Linked DNA regions of Homo sapiens. The protein of the gene in region 2 interacts with the protein of the main gene of each other region in a biochemical or structural test. Each region holds a gene or a part of one and is shown on either strand. Other genes may lie near its edges.

Region 1 (7,000 bases), on a different chromosome or scaffold from region 2:
TACTGCCTAAATTTCAGTCATAGCTCTACTACTACTAATTGAAACTCACTGTTGCTTCAGTTTCCTCATTTGTAAAGCAGGGAAAATAGTACATATATGGTTGTCACAGGTATTAAATAATGCACATGTGCATTCCAAGCACTCTGAACAGAGACTGATGCTAATCAATTTGTGTTAACCATTACTATGAAATAATTGTGTAAATTTACATTTATTTACACATATATGCTCTATTCTCAAGAGAAAACAGATTAGAATAAAGAAAGCTAGAGCAACCAAATCTATTATTTGGGAGTTGTCAGAAAAAGTAGGACCATATTAGTCTATTAGATGAGGAACTGGCTTACTCAAACATCCTAAAACATGGCAAGATAAGCTTAAAAAGCCTTTATGGAGATGGTACTAAGAATAATAACTTTTCTAATCTGTTTTCTCAGAAAAACAAAGTATTTTTGGGGCAACTTAGTATAAAACATTTTACCATGGATGTTTCTGAGAGTTGGGAAAGAGTAGTTTGTTTTATGAACCAAAAAATATTCTTATCAATCTTAAATTGCCTTATTCTGGCTGAAAAAGTCCTATGGCCTACTTCTTCCACCACATCTTTCTCCCCTTCACTATACTCCAGTGATAATGGTTCTTTCCCTCTGTCCAACTCCCCATGCTTACTTACACCTGTTCTCCCTCTCCCATTCCTTCCACTTTTGCACTTTTTCTCACTTGTCAGAGAAAGCTTCCCTGATTGCTCTATTTAACCTAACAACCTCTCCTATTAATCTCATCATATCATTCCTATTTCTATAATAGCAATCTTTACTATCACACAGAATTCTGTTTGTGCATTTGTTTTTTATTTATTGGCATATAGTAAGGGATCAATAAATATTTGATGAATGAATGACAAAACTATGTAGCTCTTCAAAGAATCAGGTAATGACATAGAAAGATAGCTAAAGCATACCATAGTGAGTGAAAAAGCTTGTCACAGAATACAGTATGATCCTATTTTCATAAAAAGTTAAAAGAAAAAAACTACATTTTGATGGATGAACATCTTATGCTAATATATTAAATATAAACATCAATAAAATACATAAGATACTTACCACTGGTTTGACAATGTTGGAAAGAAGTGCTTCAAATGCTTTAGTTTCTTCATCTTTTTCTTAAAAAAATAAAACATTTGAATATTTAAAAAAAAGAACTTAGATACAATCCCTTCTTCTCCCTAAATATGTATTCTGAAACTAGGTTGGTATTTGAGACTTTTATTTTCTAGTTTTTATTCCTTTGTTCATACTCAGCAGTTTGTGGCCCTTCAGCATTTATCTACTTTAGTTTTTATTTCTATCTTAACTGTGACTACTAATTATAACACCACTATATACAGATATATCTATATATATTTAGACATAGCTATATCTATCTGAACCAAATTTTTCTTATATCAAGTATATTTTTATTCATGGTTGTAAGAATATTCTCTCTGGAAAGTTCTCATTTGTCAATCTCATACCTCTTAATAAAGTTAACTATTTTTTCATGACATGCCTTAGTTATGGTTTCCCAAATTAGAAATATAATTGGCTTGACTGTAACTTATAGCCACCACTGATAGGCAAAAAACTTTAACTTAATTTCTTCTGAAACATCAGTGCTGAAAACGATGATCAGGTCTCAAATAAATGGGAGAACATTTATGTAAATGTTGTTAATATATAAGTCATGAACAGTTAAGACATTATTTGAAATTTGTTAGTGAGGCATGGAAATTTTAAGGAAAAGGAAGGTAGGAAGAGTTCACATGGCTTACATTTTGATATTTCCCTCAAAGTTGGAAGCATTTTAGTTCCTAGTCATATATTAATTACCTACACTATTTGATAGTAAATATCAATTTAGATAAGCATATTCAAGGACTGATAGAGTTGTGGTTATTGGTGCTTGTGAAATGACATGTTGGTATGGTTCATAGTCATTTCTGATGAAACCTTTAGAACCTGACATGGTCTACCATGCATATCTATGTATTTCTACATACGCATATCTACGTCAAACAGATAATAGTCAGTATTAAGGAAACCTAAAAGAACATACATATAGAAACTACATTAATCAAAGTAAGCAGTAGTTACAAGCTTAACATTACAATCAAAAGTACTGGGTACTAACTCCACAACTGTAGGCATATGAAAGACAGGCTGTTAACCCAGCTATATTTTACCTTATAGAGATTGATTCAAGTATATACAAATAATAGTGCTCAAAGTCCATATAGTAGGCTCATGCCTGTAATCTTAGCACACTGGAAGGTCAAGGTGGGTGGACTGCTTGAGCCTAGGAGTTGGAGACCAGCCTGGCCAAGATGGTGAAACCCTGTCTCTACTAAAAATACAAAAAGTAGTTGGGCGTGGTGGCATGCGCCTTTAGTCCCAGCTACTCAGGAGGCTGAGGCACGAGAATCGCTTCAACACAGGAGGCGGAGGTTGCAGTGAGCTGACATTGCGCCACTGCATTCCAGCCTGGGTGACAGAGCGAGACTTGGTCTCAAAAACAAACAAACAAACAAAAACCAATAAAACAAAGTTCATAGAGTAGAAGTCAGAGGTTAGGGGAAGGATCCAAGAGTAACAAGGAGAGTTTAGGAGAAAAGAACTTTTGAAGAAAGAAATGAAAAATACTCTATCCTAATTACAGAGTATATAGAGAGATTAGTAAATGATATAACTATTTGCTATCAAGGTTTTACTCAAAAAGAAGGTGGGAGAAATAAAAAGTTTTGATAGGTTGGGGACAGTGGCTCAGGCCTATAATTGCAGCACTTTGAGAGGCCAAGATGGGAGGACTGCTTGAGCCCAGGAGATCGAGACCAGCATGGGCAAAACAGCGAGACCCTGTCTCTACTAAAAATTAAAAAATTAGCTGGGTGTGGTGGTGTATGCCTGTAGTTTCCAGCTGCAGTTATCTATGATCGTGCCACTCCAGCCTGGGTGACAAAGCAAGACCCTGTCTCAAAAAAAAAAAGTTTTGATTAAAAACCAGCAGCATAGCCTTATCAAACGCCCAGAATCAGAAGAAAGGAATCTGGATTAATGTTCTCTGAGTTTTCCTATCAAATAGAAATTTCAGTCAGTAAAATTTACGATATAGATGAAATTACTAATTGAGGCTTTCCAAACTGTCGAAAGCAGCAGCCTGTAACAGTCTATTTGGACCATGACAAAATGACTGAAAGGTTAGAATATACTTTTAGTAGGTTAAATCACGAGAATAGCATCAATGAGAACAGTTCAGTACTTCAAACAGTTACCTTCAATTTCTGTATCAACTTGTGTACCACCTTTCCCCTTCCCAGACTTGATTTTTGCTGATCCTGTGTTTATACCACCAGCAATTTGTCCTTTTATAAGTCCATTATGTTCATTAATGGGAGAAGGGCATTTCTGGGGTGATGATGGTGGACTGCTCATTTTATCTTTCTGTGTTCCTTGGCGATCCTTCAATTTTTTCTGCAAACGTTCATATGTTTTACTAGATCGTTCATCTCTAAAGTTGGACCTTCCATGTGTAGAGTGAGCATCTAGGAGGCAATAAAAACAAAATGTTAAGAAGATCACTTTCTCCAAATAAGTTTATGCCATGAAAAAAGAACAGAAAATAAATCTATCATATAAAACTTTTATAAAATATTTAAAAGAATTTTGCATAACAAAGCAACCTTTGTGTCTCCATAAACTATCAGAACCAAGCTTTGTGATTTATTCTAATTATATATATCTCTCTCTCAAGTAAATTTACAGAGAGATTTATTTCCTTCTGTTCTCAACTAATTATTAATCTCCATAGAAACAGCTTGGTGGTAACTTATGATTATTGTAGGTGAGGAATGAGACTGGAGCTGAGCAGTCCACAGTTCTTTTTCTTTTACTCTTTAGTAACTATTACTTTTCACATCTTTTTGAACCTTAAACACATAAAATAGGTAAAAAGAAAACCACTGCCTGCCTAAATTCCCTTATAACTCAAAAAAGCAATCATCACTGAAAAAAAGTTAGCCAAAAGAAATGATTTAGACTGTTTAACAATAACAATCTACATATAATGTATCTTCAGATACTATAAACTCAAGGTTGTGATTTAGAAGAATCCACTCATTCTAATAAAAGTCACATAGGAACATAATTAAGTCATTATGCTCAATAAATATTAATTCAATTGTCCCCAGAGTTTTTTAAATTTAAAATTTGTGATGAGAAAAATATTTTTTAAAAGCCTCAGTAAAAAGTTTTAATTTAGCAGTGCCTTAAGAAAATTAGTACAGTATTTTTGAAATGAGTATTATAAGGATATGTACAATAACATTAGAATGAACGTGGACCTCTACCTCACACCATATACAAAAATTAATTCAAATGAATCAATGACCCAAATGTAAGAGATTAAACTATAGAACTCTTAGAAGAAAACACGTCTCTATGACCTTGGATTTGGCAATAGTTTCTTAGACGAGACACCAAAAACACAAGCAATCAAAGAAAAAATTAGATTTCATCAGAATTAAAAACTTTTCTGCACTAAAGGATACCACAAGGAAAGTGAAAAAACAACAAGGGAGGAAATCATATATCTGATAAGGAACTTGTATCCAGAATATATATACTCTTACCTTTCAACAATAAAAAGACAAATATCCCACCCATTTAAAAAATGGGTGAAGAATTCAAATAGACATTTCTCCAAAGAAAATATATGAATGGGGCTGGGCGCAGTGGCTCACGCCTGTAATCCCAGCACTTTGGGAGGGTGAGGCAGGTGGATCACAAGGTCAGGAGTTCAAGACCGGCCTGGCCAAGATGGTGAAATCCCATCTCTACTAAAAATACAAAAAATTAGCCGGGCGTGGTGGCGCGCACCTGTAATCCCAGCTATTCGCGAGGCTGAGGCAGGAGAATCATTTGAACCTGGGAGGCAGAGGGCAGAGGTTGCAGTGAGCCGAGATCATGCCACTGCACTCCAGCCTGGGCGACAGAGCGAGACTCTGTCTCAAAAAAAAAAAAAAAAAAAAAAAAAGAGTGAAACTCCATCTCAAAAAAAAAAAAAAAAAAAAAAAGGAAAAGAAAATATACAAATGGCCAATAAGCACATGAAAAGATGATCAACATTAGTAGCATTAGGGAAAAGCAAATCAAAACCATAATGAGAGAGAAATTTATTCAGGATGCCTACAATCAAAAGACAGACGATATCAAGTTTTGGCAAAGAAATTGGAACCCTCATACATTGCTGGTAGGAATATAAAATGGTGTAGTCACTGTGGAAAAGTAATATAGAATTAACATATGACCCAGCAATTCCACTCTGAGGCACATACCCGGAAGAAATGAAAATATGTCAACACAAAAACTTTTACACAAATGGTCACAGCAGTATTGTTCATAGACAAAAAGTGAAAACAACCCAAAGGTCCATCAGCTAATGAGTGATAAAATGTAATCAACAGAATGCAATATTATTGCAGCCATAAAAAGGAACGAAGTACTATTATATGTGAGAACATGAACTTTGAAAACATGACATTAAGTGAAAAAAAACTAGACACAAAAGTCTACATACTGTATGAACATTTTAATGAAATTTTTATATGAAATACTTATATGTATATTTATATGAAGTCTAGAATAGGCAAACCCATACAGACAGAAAGTAGATCATGGGATGTGAAGGAACAGAGAGTTGGGACTGACTGTTAATATGCACAGTTTCTTTTTTGGGATGATAGAAATGTTCTGGAATTAGACAGTGGTACTTAATACAGTACATACTGAATATAGAAAACATTGAGTTGCATATGTTGCACAATAAAGTAAATATATTAAAAACCACTGAAGTGTAAAATGATGAACTGTTACCTAAATTATATCTCGACAAAAAGTTAAGAAAAATAGCAACTGCAATCAATTAGATCAATTAGTACATACTTTAAAATGCTTTATCTATTATTCAAAATAATAAAGCTACCATGGAAGAGAAAAAAGAATATATTATAGTAGAAAGAGAAGGAACTTAATCATTGAATAGATCTGAGAGGGTTAAAATTCTGAGCAATTAACTAGCAGTGTGGCCTTGCAGAAATTACTTAACATTTCTGAGCCTCGGTTTCCTCATTTGAATTTTGCAGAATTTTATTGAAAATTAAGTGAGATAATACATGTGTGAGCATAGTGCCTAGCAAGGTTCAGGCTCACTAATGGTACTGCTAACAGTGAAATGCTGGATCAGATTCCACTTTGAGAATCCATATGGATTGTGCATGGAAAGGACATCACGGAGGTATAGCCATTGGTTAGAAAACCAGTACTGTCAATAATTAGCATTTAGTGGTAGAATCTCTGGCTTATAACCTCAAGTACAACATGACTCCTCCCTTTTACCACTGGGTAGCTAATTTGTGGATTTGTGCCCTTCACTTTCCTTCATATCAATGTAGATCACATCCATGTATTCTAATGCATATCCCTACAGAATAACAAGGGGTTTTAACAATGCAAAATAGTAATAATTGTAATACTAGCTTTTTCTTATAGTTTTCTCAGATTATAAGAAAAAATTAATATTTTTAAAACTAAGTCATAATTAGCAGTAAACAAAAATAGGATGAGACTAATCTGCAGTATAAACTTTTGGTACTCAAAAGTATGTTCCTTGGAGCACAGCATGAACATCTCCTAGGGGCTTGTTAGAAATGCAGAATCTCAAGCACTACCCAGAGCTACTGAACCAATTTGCATTACTTGGGCAATAGAAATAAGTTTGACAAATACATATGATGTGTACAATATATCCACTATTTACAGGCTGTGTTGTGTAATTTCAATTTTGTATTTGAAGTTATTTCTTCTGCAAATGTACTGAGCATAAGTGACAGGCAATGCTAAGTGCAGGGAAACAATAGTGATTAAAATAGATTCAGTTCTTAGGGAGTTGATAGTCAAATAAGGGA
Region 2 (6,063 bases):
AGCTTAAGAGACTGGGGGCTTTTTCCAGGAAACCATGCTCCCTGCCCCTCACCCCTCAACACACCGAGCAGAGGTTTGAACAGATCCCAAGAGACCAAAACGAACAGAGAAAAGTCGTGCACAACTGGGTGGAAGGAGCAGGCTTTCTGAGACCAGAGGCTGCAGCCCCAAAACCAGACGCATCACTGTGGAAGGGAAGCGTCTGGAGAATGAGGCTGGGCCTCGGGAGTGTCAACCCAGGAGGGCCGGCGCTGCACAGTGAGGCAGGGAGGCGGACCGGGCAGCGCTGGCAGTGGACCGAGGTGAGCAGGATGCGCTGGGTGGACAAACGCTGCAGGCCACGTGCAGAGACTGCAGGGCACAGCATGGCTAAATCATTAATGATGGAAATGCACAACCTGCTATACCAAATTGGATTTCTTCATCCAAAAGGAGCAGTCTTATGAAATTTAACCTCCTGAACAGAGGGTGAGACAGTCCCTCTGGATTTTCACAAGCAGAGCTGTGCACGCTGGGCTGGACAATGTTCCAGAAGGTGCCCGGTACCCTGGGAGGTCCCAGGCAAGCCAGAACATCTGACACTGACTGTCTGGAGGACCAGGGCACGGGGCCTGGTTCTTGGACCTATTTGATTTGAAAAGCTGAAGGCAGACCACACGTCTAACATTCCCTTTATTGCTTACGTCACATATTCCAATGAATACAATAAACTCCTTTTTAAAAAAGTAAGGCACATGAAAAGCCTTTTGTGTAAGTTCCATGTTATTTTAAAATTCCTATTGGCTAATAAAAGCATTTGCACTATAGAACCAGAGACATCTAGAAAAGCACATGATAGATTTTTTTGCAAGCAGAATGCCTGAAACATTACATTTACCTCATGGCACAATGAGACAGTCACCAAATCCAATGTCTGCATTAGAACGATACAGCTACTATTACAGTTGCAAAACCATTAATCAGCTTATCCACATATGTACAGCTGGGTCCCCACGTGACAAAATCTAAAGGAAGAACAGCATCTAACTGCACCTGTGCTCCATTCCCTCACAGATAGGAACTGTGACATTTTGGCTCTTTCCATGTTGTGCTGCTCTTCACGAGAGGCCAGGGTCATACGATACTGAAGACCATGGACAGGTACTGTTCGTACGACACCTGAATCCAGCCGTCCTGATCCGTGTCGTAACGTCTGAATATATCCGTCAACCTCTGGGGAGAAAACAGGCATTTAAATCTCGATAGTAAATGGAAGGAGCAAGGTGCACTGGGACAAAGGCATGTAGGGACCCAATTTCAGAAGCACACACGTCTTCTGGGCTCCCTGATGGAGCCCAGCACAGGGAGGCGCAGGTGGGGCTGGAGCTGTTCACACGGACGGTGGGAGTGCGAAGAACGAAGAACACAGGGCTGCGGGGCTGGCTCCGGACATCCAGCCCTGGCTGAGCCCCTGGCTGAGCCCCTGACCCCAGGCTCTGGTCTCCTGAGTCTCCTGGGGGCCTGGGCCCTTCCTTCTCCCCCTGAAGACCGTCCCGTGGAAGCCCTCCACCCTCCAGTGGCTCGCCTCTGCTGTGGGGGCCACCTGGGGCATGTGCAGCGCAGGGGATGCCCAGCCAGATGGGCTTGTGACATCACGAGGGCTTCAGGTTCCTCCAGCCCAGCCCACCCCTCCCTCTCACAGCCGAGGGTCCAGGCCAGGTCAGCGGCAGAGACAGGGTGACCACCTACACTCCTGAAACAGGGATGGTTAAGTAAGTGACACTTCAACCGTAAAATACCCTGAAGATTCAGGCCAGCATGGTGACTCTCGCCTGTGATCCCAGCACTTTGGGGGTCCGAGGCGTGAGGATCGCTTGAGCCTGAGGGTCGAGGCTGCAGTGAGCCGTGTTCGCACCACCACACTCTGGCCTGGGTGATGGAGCAAGGGTCTGTCTCAAGAAAGAAGAAGAAAATGTGGCAGGGAAGACACAGCGTCCTCGCACATCAAGACCTGCAGGAACATGGACAGGGTGTGGTGACTCTCGCCTGGGATCCCAGCTACTCAGGAGGCCAAGGCAGAAGGATCGCTTGAGCCTCAGGGTCAAGGCTGCAGTGAGCTGTTTACACCACCACATTCCAGCTGGGGTGACAAGAGTGAGACTCCATCTCAAAGAAAAAAAAACAACCCTGCAGGAATGCCACAGCCACCACCGGGCTCCTTGACTTGGCAGAGGCTACGGCCTCACCCAACTCCAAAAGCACCGCAATGGATAATGCTGGCTTAAAGAGTAATGGGTAATTTTTCTTTCTATTTTGAATACTTTGTGTTTTTCTAGGGTTTCTAGAAGTGTTCATGTTATTTGTTAGAAAATAATTTTCAAAAAGCCTTTATCCTTTCAGAAAAAGCAGATAAATAAAAACGTTTTTGAGGGAATTTTAACTTGAGGTCTGCAGCTTTCTTTTCTTTCCCATTCCCCATCTGTCTAGCGTTTAGGGTCACTCTCCAAGGGTGGGGACAGCCTGGGAATTGGCTGTCAGGCCCTCCCCACGTGGTCTGGAGCAGGGCCTTGAGGAGGCATCTCCCAGGAGGAGCTACGCTGGCTGCAGATGTGCCTTGGAAGGCGCTGGAGAGGTCGCTGTGAGGCCGCCTGTGTTACTCCAGCTACCGAAAGCTCACACAAGATCAACGTTAACTTATAGAACATAACCTCAAATGAAGATCTGAGCCCTACGGCAATTCAGACACAGAACCTCAAATGAAGATCTGAGCCCTACGGCAATTCAGACACAGAACGAGATTTTACACGGCATCTTTTCCCTTTTTCTTTTCTTTCTTTTTTAAGACAGGGTCTGGCTCTGTCACCCAGGCTGGAGTGCAGTGGTGTGATCTCGGCTCACTGAAACCTCCACCTCCCGGGTTCAAGTGATTCTCCTGCCTCAGCCTCCTGAGTAGCTGGGACTACAGGCATGCGACACCAGGCCCAGCCTACACTTTTTTGAAAGTGTTCAGAGAACATTGTAAAAATGTCATCCAACCTGGCAGGAACCCCGAGAGGCAGGGGCAGGAAAGGGTCCCCAACCGTAGAGTTTTGAAGCTTCCATGTTCACAGACCTGGTTCTCCAACAAATCCCTGAAGAACAGGGACTGATGCATCCATGCCAAATCAGAGGAAACTCACTTTTACAGATCTAGCATCTTAATTATTATACAGAATAAACAATTTGGGAACGTTTTCCAAATTTCCACATTATTTCTAAAAACCCCATGCTGTTCCTATCTCTCACTGAATTCCAAGGCCAACAAGACAGGACCTTGAGGAACCTGGGTAGAGACCTGGATCACCACCTGCAAACAGCAGCAGAGGTCTGTGTGGAGCTCCCAGGCGGGTCCCCTGAGCCCTGCTCTCCATCTCCCGTGGGTCTCAAAGAGAGCCCAGCAGGAGAGACACCACCAAGGAGCTTGCCTTGCAGGTCAGGGTGCATTACCAGCTCCTGCAGACACTGGAGTGCACGGGAAGAGCTCGGAGACCCCACTGAGGGCGGCCTGAGCGACCACAGGCTCCACAGCTGACCTCACACACAGACGGCAGGACACAGTGATGACCACAACAGAAAACGTGCCCATTTTCTCAGAATAAAAGTTTTTGTAAAAATACACCATAGTTGGCCAGGCATGGTGGCTCATGTCTGTAATCCTAGCACTTTGGGAGGCTAAGGTGGGCGGATTACTTGAGGTCAGGAGTTTGAGATCAGCCTGGCCAACATGGCAAAATCCCGTCTCTACTAAAAATACAAAAATTAGCTGGGTGTCACCTGTAATCCCAGCTACTGGGGAGGCTGAGGCAGGAGAATTGCTTAAACCCGGGACGCAGAGGTGGGAGTGAGCCGGGATCGTGCCACTGCACTCCCGTCTGGGTGACAGAGCGAGACTCGGTCTCAAAACAAAACAAAACAAAACAAAAAACAAAAAAAACCACAACACCAGAACATACATGTAAATAACCCACCGGATACTGAAAAACCACGTCTTGCAGATGGGCTGCTCTGTGCCATTTCCAAGGGGAGGAAAACATGTTTGTCCACACTTCACTAACCGGCTACTTCTCCAAAGATGAGACTCACTTTTATAAGCTCCAAAAACTAATTCTACACATGCCCAGCTCCTTAGATTGAAGGTCAGGTGCATCACGCTGGCAAGCAAGCCCCTCCCACCACCACCACAAACCCACGTGAAGCCATTCCGTCACCTGCAGGACGATGCAGCCCTGGATGAAGTCGTCGAAGGCAATCTGCCCCCGTCCCTGCCTGTCAAACTTTCGAATGAGGATGTCGTGGAACTGGTCAGAGAGCCGGTAGCCTTCAAGAGGGAAAGTCAGAGTCAGAGAAGGCTGGGAGAGACGGGAGGTATGTGCCAACACTCACCCCTCCTGCCCAAGGCCCACAGCCTCTAACACACACAATGCAAGGCTGTGTGGGAACGGAAGTGCAAATTCCCTCAAAGGCACTCAGAACTGAGACACTTCCCGAATATATCATTCTGTAATGAGCTGACATCCCCAGTGCATGGAGTGACCCCTTGAGACCATGACCCCGGAAGGAGGAGTGAGTGGGACGCTGCCATTAGTCACTCCTGTGAATTAACTACTCACCTCCGGGAAGCACTCACCAAACACCACCCCACAGGGCGGCCACACTCAGTTTCCTGAACCCAGTGGAGTTACTTTCAAAGTCCTTATTGATTTTATTATGTTTATTAGCCTAGATAAGAAAATTCTGAATGATTCGCTGCCCTGGGTTGCCCATCACCAGATAATGCTTTGAAAACTAAAATTTCACAGAAGGCTTCCAGTTATACAAAGTGACAATGTCAGGAAATGGGAGTGGCTGGGGGATGTGCCCCCACCTGCCAGGAGGGACTGAAGGGCACGCAGTGGCAGGGTGACCTCGGAAAGGTCCAAGTCACTGCAGGGCCACCAAGGGCTGGGATTCCGTTTCCAGTTCACCAAGGCTGTCCTGAAAAAGGCCTCCCACAGGGAGAGGGCTCTGAAGACATGTGGATGCAGCAGGTGTGTTCGGGCACCCCGGAGGGCATGCCCCGCCTGCCGCCTTCCCTTCCCTCCCTCGAAATCCCACTGCCTTCGTGACTGTGGCATATCCTTACTGACTCAGGAGGCAAGATCCAGGTGCTGATATATTTCTACTGGTTTTCAGTCCTGCTGGAATCTCTGCAGGGACGTGTGCACCTACTCTCTGAATCTCACAGTTAATGACCTGCACAAACAGCCATTTTACGGATCAAGAGTCAAGCACACAAACATGAACACAGTGCCTTCCAGAGTGGTCAGGGCATTCTGTCATTTAAGTTCAGGGGTCCCTAAATGTGCAACAGCGGAGTTGCCTCGGACCCTCCTTCCTTGCAAGCTGAAAAGACAGGACCTCCCATTACATTCAGAAAGAGATGGCAGAGTTGTCAACAGCTGCCACTTTTTCTGGTCCCTACTACTCCCACCTCCTCACTCCCTGCACCAGGGCTGAGCCCAGCCTGCTGAGAACAGAGCCTGGGACAGGCCCACAGGGACATTGCCTGTCTGGGAGTGCATGGGGGACAGAGGCCATCACTGGTGTGCACGGGGACGGCGGCCATCACTGGGGTGCACGGGCACGGCGGCCATCACTGGTGTGCACGGGGACGGCGGCCATCACTGGGGTGCACGGGGACGGCGGCCATCACTGGGGTGCACGGGGACGGCGGCCATCACTGGGGTGCACGGGGACGGCGGCCATCACTGGGGTGCACGGGGACGGCGGCCATCACTGGGGTGCACGGGGACGGCGGCCATCACTGGGGTGCACGGGGACGGCGGCCATCACTGGGGTGCACGGGGACGGCGGCCATCACTGGGGTGCACGGGGACGGCGGCCATCACTGGGGTGCACGGGGACGGCGGCCCTCACTGGGGTGCACGGGGACGGCGGCCCTCACTGGTGTGCACGGGGACGGCGGCCCTCACTGGTGTGCACGGGGACGGCGGCCATCACTGGGGTGCACGGGGACGGCGGCCATCACTGGGGTGCACGGGGACA

Evidence for each region. Proteins that work in one complex are often made in the same cells at the same time.
Region 1: the proteins of PDCD6 (region 2) and FNDC3A interact in far-western blotting, tested with the Homo sapiens proteins (one study listed by BioGRID).

The regions. Positions count from the first base shown.
Region 1 is NC_000013.11:49,132,912-49,139,911, reverse strand, and holds part of FNDC3A (fibronectin type-III domain-containing protein 3A), read right to left. Parts: intron 3,581-7,000; coding exon 3,311-3,580; intron 1,166-3,310; coding exon 1,107-1,165; intron 1-1,106. UniProt on the Homo sapiens protein: Mediates spermatid-Sertoli adhesion during spermatogenesis.
Region 2 is NC_000005.10:309,566-315,628, reverse strand, and holds the end of PDCD6 (programmed cell death protein 6), read right to left. Parts: intron 4,337-6,063; coding exon 4,227-4,336; intron 1,213-4,226; coding exon 1,114-1,212; 3' UTR 655-1,113; downstream 1-654. UniProt on the Homo sapiens protein: Calcium sensor that plays a key role in processes such as endoplasmic reticulum (ER)-Golgi vesicular transport, endosomal biogenesis or membrane repair.